2 separate regions of the Homo sapiens genome follow, and region 2 is linked to region 1. The links come from fine-mapping of genetic effects on plasma protein levels. A gene starts in region 1. The other region holds a variant in brackets. All regions are shown on one strand. Distances are from middle to middle.

Region 1 (4,998 bases):
ATAACCTCTATTTAGTCTTGTTAGCATTTCGCCGTACTGTGTGCAGAATAGATTTTGTTACGAATCACCTGTAAGCAAAGTGAAGATGTAACACTTCAACCCTAAATACTTCAGAAATTTATGACATGCCATTTTTTAACACAATTAAAATATATAAATCTGTGTTTTATTTTTAAATTTGAATTCAGGCAAACTATGTTTGTTAGACTGCAAAACCTATTTTTGAGATAGTATGGATTGACTATAAGGATATTTTAAATGATATGACTGCTTTCAATGATCTGAGAAAGATTTTAAATGGTCAGACTAATATAAATATTAACATTTTCAATGGTATGACATTTAGAAAACATTTTTTAACGTTCTTAGAAATGTATTTTTAGTTGGGTTTAGAAATCTATTTTCAAAAAACTGTGAGTTAGCTAAATGTATCTGTATATACCCTGACATATCTATTTTTCCAAACTGTATACGTTAACTATCCATTTTTAATTATTCTGCTTAGCTTAAATATTTTTTAAAATTGCCTAACTTAGAAAATAATTTTCTAAAGTGGTCTGATTCAGAGATGCACTTTTAAAAAGCTTCCCGTCTCAGATACTAGGTTTTTAAACTGTCTGACTTAATCGGGAAAAAAAAAAAAACCCTCATGTTACCCAAAGGTTCAGGGTATTTTGAACCTTAATGATTAAAAATTGAAAAATAAACAATATGTTTTTCAATTAAAACTGATACCTTAGAAATCTTAATATGAGTTTCAGTAGTTTTTGAGGCAGCACAAAATCAAGTCATTTAAGGAACATGCAGTTCTTATTTAACATTACTGAAGTTCCATTAAGGAATTGAATTCATCCAATTTCTACTCGATTTCTTGGATTATTTCTTCTTCAAAATTAGCGCTAGAATTAGCCTGTTTCTATGCTACCAGACATCTTTACATTTATTTCAATATAATGTAATTCCTTTCCGTTTATAAATGTAAAAAAAACCCTTCAACTTCTTAATTAACTGAAATCTCACACACACTCTGTCCCTAGTTCTAGGCTGTTTGACCTGAGTTTACATGCTTTTATTCCTGAAACCGCTCACACGGCTTAAAATGACTTTTCTATCAGTTATATGGCCAAAGACATTCTCCACCTGTGACTTACAAAAAGGAGAAACTGTCTTTGTAGACATGATAATCATGACATATGGCAAAATTTTCCTGAAGCATTTAGATAAAGCCATAAAGAAAAAAATAAACTGGCAATACAGTCCCTAAGAGGTGAAATGAATGTTCCAAAATTGCCTAATATCAAGTATAACCCCCAAGAATGTGGTCCTGGGATGGCTATTTCCCGCCTGTTCCAACGCTGCTTCTATTCCAACCTAGTCTGCCTACAGCAGGTAGCCTGAACTACAGCCAGTTTCATAACTTCACTTTTCAATTGAAGACATTACAGAGCTAACGATCACTGTCTGGTATAGATCATCCAGACTCGCCCCTTATTTAACAGAGCAGTAAACTGAGGCTCAGAAAGGGAAAAGTAGCCCCCATTAAAAACAAACCCCAAACAGTAATTTTTCCAGGACCACCCTTAAAAAACGCTACTGCTAGGCTAACTAAAGGTTGTGGTTAATTAAAAAAAAAAAGTGCTATTTTACGGGGTTAATTTTCACATATACCTCCTCAGGCTTTTTTTAAAAAGTTCGAATGGAGAGGAAAGCTTAATTTCCTGTCTGGGAAATGGAAAGTGAAGAGGCTAGCACCTTGAGTCTCACAAACGCAAGCCCCCAGGAAGAACAGTGAGGCAATTATTCACAGGGAACAAGGCCACACAGAGGGCTGCGGGGCCGTTAAAAGAAAACGGGCGGAAAAACAAAACAAAACAAAACAACAACACAACTCCCTCCTCTTTGAGGGGAGGGAGTCGTTCATTTTGCAAGGATTTGGGTCTACGATCCGGCGACCCAGCCCTTAGGACCAAACTGAGGCTCATTACTGGGGGGAGGGGAGCTTCAAACAAAACGAAACAAAAAGGCTTCAGAAAGGCCCAATGCTTCCCAATGTTAGCGTTAAAACATATGTAAATTACAGGCGGCCTGTAGCGCAGTGACGCCAAGGCGGGGGGTGCGGGGGGGGGGGTGCTGCGGAAGTGAGGAGAAGACCGGGCAGAGGTGGAGCTGCGGCCTCACAGCACCGCTTCTTCCTCATCCAGGGCTACAGATGCCCCCTGACTCTAGCCAAGAGATCTTATTATTCTTAGTCTTATTATTCTTATCTTCTCTTTTTAAACAGAGAGACAGACAGAGACAGACAAACAGGCAGAGCCGCAGTGCACACGGTCCGTGTGTCGGAGAGGCCGCCAGGAGACTCACCGCAGCAATGCTACGTGAATGCAGAGGGCTGGAGGTGATGTGACTACTCACTTGCTCGGCTAACAGCTGCCGGTTTTGGATGGAATTATTCCGCAACAACAAGAAAGCGTCGGTTAAACGCCTGGTGGCCATGTCTCACCCTTTGCGACCCCCCTCTCAGGGGCCCCCCGCCCACTTATATTCCTGATTTATTCACTTTCTTTCTCGTGGCCCGGCTGGCCCACCCTTTCACGGAAGCTTCTCGACAAGGCCTCAGGCCTCAAGCCAAAAAGATGCAGCTGTGCGCTTCGCCAAGGCGTAGAGACCCCTCCCCAAATAACTACCTAGGCTTTCCAATTGTCTGACTCCCCCTACCCAGGGCAGACTTCGATCTCTAAGCACTTGAATCCCCCCAATCCTTGCGTAGCGATCCAACGTCCCAGAGACCCCACCCCAATCCAACCTTGGATCTACAAGCGTCTAACTCGCCAATCCGGCTCTAGACTGGGAGGCCCTGAAGCCCCCTACTCCCTGAGACCCCCCGGAGGTCTCTGCTCTCTACCCCTAACTTTGGCTCGTAAGCGTCTAGGCCGTGCCCTGAGGTCTGGCTGTGACTCAGTTTCCGCACCAGAGGCCTGGCCTAGGCCCTCTTTGGACAACCGGAGCCAGGCTTGGGGCCTGGACTCGAGGGCGCCTGCAGCTCCCTTCTGGGGACTTGTCTGAACCTGCTGAGGCCCTGCCCGACCTCCTGACCCCTTCCTTTCCTGGACGGCCTGGTCCTCCACTGCCAGCAGGCTGCCGGCCTGCAGGAAGACAGCAGGGCCTGCCTCCCCGGCCTTCTCACTCCTCTTCTCCGGCTCCCTCCATCCCCGGATCTGACTGCAGCTCAGCCCCGGACCGTTTCCGTGCTGTGGTCCCGGGTTCTGGCGTTCCCCCCTGGCCCTCTTCCTGTCCGTCCCTCGCGAGTGCCCCCCTGCGACGCTCGCAAGCCTTGCTCGCAACGTTCCGGGCGCGGGAGCTCCCTGCACTCCTGCCCCGGGGCACGGGAGTGCTCCGCCCTCTCCCGGGGTGCTCCTCGGGCGCCCTGTTTCGCCTCCCCCAACTGGGTCCAGGCACTAGGAGCAGGCCAACGAGCAGGCCTGAGCCTGGGGAGCGTGGCCCCCAGGCTGCAAACCGCTGCCAGGGCCCTTGGTCGCTGAATTAGAGTGGAAGTTGCGCGGCAGGCAAATTTGGGCTCCCCAAGAACTGAAGTTTTGGGCGCGGGGAGTTGGAGCGGGAGAGGAAAAGTTGGAGACGACTGCCTCTGCAGGCCGAGCACGCTCTACTGCAGGCGGCGGCGCTCGCTTTTTTTTTTTTTTTTCCCACTCTGGAAAAAGATGTATCCGACAAACAACCACGAGGAAATAAAAGGAAAAAAAAAAAAAAAAAAGGAACAAGAACTCCAGGCAGCCTGGCCGCGCCGCCGCTGGCAGTCGGGGGTCGTCGGGGGCGCCCGCCCTCCCCAGCTGCCGCTTTCTGTAGGGGGCACTGCAGGGTCGTGGAATCTCAAGTGGAAAAGTTCCCCGAAAACTTTGACACCTCCCACCCCCCTCCCCGCGAAAAAAATCTCTGTTCCCTGCCTGGGCCCTGGCCCTGCGACCCCCGCGCCCCCCCGTGCCCCGGGCCGGGTTTTCCACGGTTGGCCGGGCCCAGGGCGCCCTAAGCACCTCGACTTGCCGCCCCGGGCCAGGTCGGCGGGGTTCGTGCAGGGGCTCCGTGGGGCCGCGTCGGGCAGGGGCCGCCCGGGCCCGAGCACGGCACCCACAAACAGGCTGGCGTCCCGCGACGGAGACCCGGGTCCGGCCCGGAGCCGCCCGGGAGGCTTGAGGCCAAGGGCCTGGCCCAGCGCGCGGCCGGAGCGGGTCGGGGGCGCAGAGCTGTGCGGCGGCGCCTTCCGGGCCCCGGGCCTGTGCAGGGCCGGCTTCCCCTTGCGGGGCGAGGCTGCGGGCCGGGCTGCGGTGCGGGGTTCCAACAAAGGACCGAGGCCCCAGAAGCGGCCCCCACGCGTCCTTTGTTTCTGCGTGGAACAAACTTTACACACGTGTGTGTTTTCCGAGGGTTTCCCGTGTGCTGAGCGCTTGCAAAGCGGAGTCGCGCCCGGGGAGACGCGAAGCCGGTGCCCGCGGCTCACCCAGGGACCCCAGCCAGACAGCGGCACCCGCGGGGCGCGTGCGGGACCCCCAGGCGACCGGGGGAAGCACCGGTAACCGCCCCCCACCCGTGCTTTTTCTCTCACGGAGAATGTTCCCGCGCGTTCGTTGTGCAACTAAAAATTAATGTGAAACATCCATTGAGGCAAATAACAAAATGCATCCAACGAAACCCACATAAAATCGAGAGAGCCGCGAGCAGGGCTGGGCGAGTTCACTGTGAGGACCGGCTCTGGCTTCCGCGCAGCGCGGAGAGCAGGGCGCTCGCCCGGGGACGCTTCGCAGCGGTGGAAGATTCGGGCGACAGGGGACTGGGTCGCCGCGCGGGCCGGGCTGGAGGCTGCAGGGACTTGCTGACAGGCCATCCAAAGACAGAGAGGCCCTGGGGAGGGAAATTCGGGGAGCCCGTGTGCTTAGCGTAGCGCCCCGGGAAATATTTGCCCAATAAGGGAGAGTTTGTCCCCACACT
Region 2 (5,526 bases), 11 kb before region 1:
CAGGCCCATAAACTATAACTGCAATTTGCTAAGAAAATGAATCAAGACAAGCCATCAGATTAAAACAACAAAACACAGTAGTTTGATTCATTTCCCACCAACTACACCAGGCACTATAGGACAGGCCGCCAGTGAGTGACGTTAGTGTCAGTAAAGATCATCCTCTCTTACTGACCATCCGTGGACAGAGAGGCGCAGACCTCACCCTCTACAGAGCAGGCACAGAGAGGGCCTGTGCCAAGCACTCAGAGGCAGACTTGTTTATTCCTCAACACTCCTGCTCCAAAGTCACCAAGAGGTACACAACTCTGTGGAGGACACACTGACTAAAAAGCAGGGGGACAAACCACAGGCCCAGCTCGCAGCACCTGCCAGCCATACATCAGGTGCTGTCTACAGTATTGCTGGACTGGAACAGAACTTGAACTCCAGCTGTTTATACAAAGTAAAATCTAAAATTGCTAAAGGACCTCTTCATGGGTCCTAGAATTTCCACTACACCAGTTTATTATCGAATCCACTATATTTTATTATTACACATTTCAATCAGTAATTATTTATAGTGATTTTAGAGTTTTTAAGCTCATGATCTTATTTTGTACTGTTTTTACTGTTTACAAATACACATTAAACTAAAGAAGACAGAGAGATGGTATCTATCTAAATTTACCTGCATTGGGATTAGTATCATTTTATCCAAAACAACAAATTATAAACCACATATGAAAAGTCGGTTGAAGTGAATACAACTCTTTGAAGCAGTACTTGATTTTATGCATGTGTTCCCCTCAAATTAGATGTAAATCAAAAGTGGGGAGAACACACTCTTTGTTAAGGGTCCTAAGGAAGCTTGCTAATTAGAGATTCCTACATGAACAGCATGGATGCCAGCCTGCTCAGCTGGTACTAGCTTTCCCACACATTGTATCAGAGTTTTGCCAGTAAGATAGAACAGCTGATTCTTTGGGAATGAAAACTTTAAATAGCGAATAATTTGTCTCTTTTATGATACAGTCTATAGCTATAGTTCATTATAATAAAGAAACACCACCCTATTGAGAAGAAATGTGTCATTTCTTTTAGCAGTATGGATTTGTAATGTGTATCACAGTATGTACTATTAAAAAACAAGACAGTATGTTTTGGGAAGGGAAAACAATTGTTGAAGATAAGCGTCAACTATTTGAAATGGGAACAAATATGGACATAAACAAATTTTATGTGCAACATAAGCACCCTTTTAATTTCAGAAACCTCACTTTCCATTTAAAAACATGTCTTCTTATTGTTGAAGATCCAGCATATGTATCAATTTTCAAGCTGCCATCCTATTTCATACAGATCTTAAAAAATGGCCAGGTTTCTAATTCTCTCTCCTTACCCTTACTGAATTTCAACATGGTGCCCCCTCCAAATATATGATGTTGGTTTGTGCAGCTGGCCATGGTGGCTCACGCCGGTAATCCCAGCACTTTGGGAGGCTGAGGCAGGCGGATTGCCTGAGGTCGGGAGTTCAAGACCAGCCTAGCCAGCACGGTGAAACCCCGTCTCTACTGAAAATACAAAAATTAGCCGGGCATGGTGGCATGCACCTGTAATCCCAGCTACTCGGGAAGCTGAGGCAGGAGAATCACTTGAACCCGGAAGGCAGAAGTTGCAGTGAGCCAAGATCGTGCCAATGTGCTCCAGCCTTTTATTAAGACAGAGCGAGACTCCATCTCAATACATAAATAAATAAATAAATTTGTGCTTCTGAAGTAAAAAAAAAAAAATCCATATTTTTTAAATAAAAATTGTACTTAAGAGAATTAAGAATTCTTGCCTCTTTGATATGTAGTTCCTCTCTCCAAGAACTACTGGGGTCCGCTACCCTAACCTAGAGCCATCCTTCCTGAGAGAAATGCAGAAAAAATCCAACAGATGTTCAAAACAGCACACCCAATGGCTTTCCTGCCAGTCTCACTAAAGGTATCTTTTGCCTTTGATCCACTTCAAATGTTGACATTTGTCCATTTAAAGAGTACCAGCCAGTATGGACAAGTTCTCCATCTATGGAAAGAACATACACATTCTCTCTTATAAATCTTGCTGTTCCAAATCTATGGCCCTCCTACTCTTAAAAACCCTGCCTTTCCCTGAAGGCTGATTTAGTGTAGACTAAGATTACAGAAATAGCAAAGCCTCTGTGGAGATTGGAAAAGTCAGCTACACCTCCTCCCCATCTAAAAAAATCAACTAAGTTTAGCCGTAACGCATTGGTAATGAGAACAATACCGATAATTCTGGACTGTCTATGGCAATGAACACTTGGAAAGCCCAGAAGGGACACTGAAAATCAACAGACTGGCAACTCACACTTCCACGTGAAACTCTGGGAGCCTGTATGATGAAGTCAGACTACTTCGCTAATAGACAATTAGGCTTAAGAAATCCGAGTTGTTGGAGAAGTGAATAAGCATGTGGATAAAAGAAAAAAGTGATGTCAGCACTACATTTTTCTAAACCCGTAATAATTTTAAAATAATGCTTACCTTTTCTAATTATGAAATTAGTAAATGGTCAAAATAAATACTTTTAAAATGGCATAGGATGACGCAGTGGCTCACGCCTGTAATCCTAGCACTTGGGAGGCCAAGGCAGGCGGATCACTTGAGCTCAGGAGTTCGAGACCAGCCTGAGCAACATGTCAAAACTCCGTCTCTACTAAAAAATACAAAAATAAATAAATAAATAAAATAGCCACGCATGGTGGCACGCACCTGTAGTCCCAGCTACTCAGGAGGCTGAGGCAGGAGAAT[C/T]GCTTGAACTGGGGAGGCAGAGGTTGCAGTGAGCCGAGATCGCGCCACTGCACTCTAGCCTGGGCAACAGAGTGAGACTCTGTCTCAAAAAAATAAAAATAAATGATACAAAAAATATAGAGATAAAAACACTTGAGAATCACATCACCCTGATACTGTTGTTAAGTTTCACTGATTTTCCTTTTTTCTCAACTAACATACATACTCTGAGGGGAAGAAAAAGGAGGGGAGCAATCCGTCCCTCCCTGCCTTCTGTGAGCACTGTACTGAGCACTGCTACTGACCTGGCCCATGCCAGTCCCAAGAACAATCCTTCAGAGGAGCGCCGCTCCCTATTTCACCAACATGGACACTGGGGCCCGGCCCAGGCACTCCCAGATGTGCAGTCCTCCAGGCAGTGTGGTTTGGGGGCTTGACATTTGTTATCTTGTGACTTTTAAAATAATTCTTGAGTTTAAAAACTCCCAGAGATTTCTTTGTCATAAGACAGGAAGTAGATTAAAGACAGAGAACAAAGGAGAGGGCCAGACACTTCCCTGGGTAAGAGAACCAATGGTGGGCTCGGGTCCTCCTCAGGGAACACCTTACTTAGTGTTTTCTGAGAAGGAAAAGTGACATCTCCAGGGTACTCAGGCTAGAGGAGGAGAATGACAATCAAACATGGACAGACTGCAGGAAGCCTCTGAAGTGAGGCCGTCAGATGCCTTTACTCTGGGAGATGCAAGTGATATTCACTCAGGGACATTTGCTCAGGCCTCCCCTATAAAGGGGTGGCTAACATCTAATCCACTCTGGAGCTGGGTGTTCACTATTTCCAGAGATGCCAATGTGAGGCCCTGCGTCAGCTTCAAAGAAGCCTCTGGACACTGTCCCCAACCACACCCCCTGCTCCTAGGCCAGTACCTGGCACTTCAGAGTCCTGAACGCACAATCACAACCAGCTGAGTGATCCGACAAGAAACGAGTGGAATGAATGCACGAGGTAAATAAAATGTACGTCACAGACAATTGTGGAAGCCACACTTCATGAAAAAGATAACGGCACTGCACAAAAGAGCAAAAGAGGCAAGTGAAACGCACAAGGAAATGAGGTGGCCGTGGGCACCCACGATGAGGCAGCAACCTGCATTTCTAATAGCACTGGGGTGAGCGTGGAGGAGATAGTGCTCTCTACGCAGGGCCTCTGATCACAGAGCGTGAAGACTCCCTTTTAAGCCCTTAGAGGTGAAACATAAGAAAAGCAAAAGGGCCTGCCAAGTTCATGCAGTGAGTAGCCAGTTTCTGGAACTTGCTGCCTGAAAAAGGAAGTAGGAAAGACTGGAAATCGGTTCAGACAGCAGACCCCGAAGTAATTATGACCACTTATGTGCCCCTCCTTGGAACATTATTCAAATGGTTCTTCAACCTAAGTGGTTCCATAATTTGTTACCCTCCCTCGCATCCTATACACTTCCTTTTGAGGTCATAAGCTCCATATCTTCAAACTGTTCAGCCAGTAGCAACATCTATTTTAACTCAGAACGCCTGCTCTCCAAGCCCCCAAGCCCTCTCCAGGGCCCCGTGCCCAGGCGGGGAGCTGGCAGTGAGGTTCCTGAATGGGAAAGGAAACCCCCACACAGGCATGACCATGACACCTGGCTCAGTCAGCTACCCGTTGAGTGGTGTTTTTTTTTTTTAACTAATTGTTTTTAGTGGCAAAGTATACATGCACATGGTTTAAAAATATATATCCACCCTAAGAAAAGGGTTTGCAATAGAAAGGAAGTTTTCTATCCCAGATGTTTCTTGGGGTGTATCCACTGTTAACAGTTTCTTGTGTATCTTTTCAGGAATTTTTTAAGCACACACAAGCATAAATATGAGTTATTTTTCCTGAAAAAAAAAAAAAAAAAAAAAAAAAAGGAGCAGGAATCATATTATCCATGCTGCTCTGCATCTGGGTCTTTCCACTCCGCCATGTGTCTGGGGCTTATTCCACTGCAGCTCTCATGGATGGGCCTCACTATTTACCTGTTACAGAGGGTCAGAGATGCTACACAATATATTTAACCAGTTCCCAATGAAGGCTATTTAGGCTGTGCTCAGTCTGTTGTCATTATCAACTAGTTAAGGTTTTTAGAATATATAGGTAGATCTGAATCTACTAGTTAGGACCCCACTGGTTTTAAGGACAGTGATCCTCCTAATCCTACTTTACTATTCATACTTCTAAATGAAAACAAACAAGAACAACCCTCACCTCTCCATCACTCTACTTAAAAGGTCTATACTCAGGAAAAATATTCTTACCCCTTCAATGCTGAAACAGACAATAGACACAAACATTAACAACAGTTTTAATCTCATTTTTTCTCAACCCTTTTACTCCGGCTACTAAAATAAAGTGCTTTGAATATATATTCTCTCCACCTTCTGGGCAAGATGCTAGTAGCTAATAAAAAGGCCAAAGGCACCCCCAGCTAGGAGATGCAGAACTGGGCCCAGGTGACAATAGCTCCAGGTGCATCCACTGGGTGTCATCTCATTCCAGACAGGAGTGACAAGGAAGACCCTCCCACAGTTGCCGTGGCTACAGTCCTTCTCATTTAGGGCCTTCACAGACATGCTGGCCTTCTATACTGTCTACCTGAGGAAGTGCACGACTCACTTCTCAGAAATCAGGAAGCTACAGACATTAATTCTCAAAACATTCTGGCTTCCTTGAAGAAAGTGTTCAACCTTTACTGCT

Direction of the effects. Alleles are on the strand shown, and positions count from the first base shown. The strength of an association depends on the size of the effect and on how common the allele is.
With allele C in place of T in region 2, the plasma level of the protein whose gene starts at base 3,217 in region 1 is lower (weak association).

What was found. PIP is the chance, under the fine-mapping model, that this variant and not a neighbour inherited with it causes the effect. The UK Biobank Pharma Proteomics Project read protein levels with antibody pairs (Olink). The fine-mapping took linkage between variants from a reference panel, not from the people measured, so its PIPs are less certain.
Region 2: its variant is fine-mapped to the plasma level of the STX16 protein (UK Biobank, PIP 0.94).

Annotation. Positions count from the first base shown.
Region 1 is chr20:58,649,502-58,654,499 of GRCh38, reverse strand. It overlaps STX16 (syntaxin 16), which reads right to left and starts at 3,217. Exons shown (of 9, transcript NM_001001433.3): 1 at 2,362-3,217. The coding sequence starts at 2,493. STX16-NPEPL1 (STX16-NPEPL1 readthrough (NMD candidate)) reads right to left here and starts at 3,247. Exons shown (of 23, transcript NR_037945.1): 1 at 2,362-3,247. LOC107985410 (a long non-coding RNA gene) reads left to right here and starts at 4,865. Exons shown (of 3, transcript XR_005647058.2): 1 at 4,865-4,998. RefSeq lists enhancers at 1,848-2,351, 2,189-2,458 and a silencer at 3,955-4,314.
Region 2 is chr20:58,659,887-58,665,412 of GRCh38, reverse strand. The region is part of intron 2 of STX16 (syntaxin 16); the gene reads right to left. All of the region lies in intron 2 of STX16-NPEPL1 (STX16-NPEPL1 readthrough (NMD candidate)), which reads right to left. Among named protein-coding and RNA genes, the nearest start is that of STX16, 11 kb to the right of the region's middle. RefSeq lists an enhancer at 3,647-4,146. The variant C/T (reference allele first, on the strand shown) is at 2,799.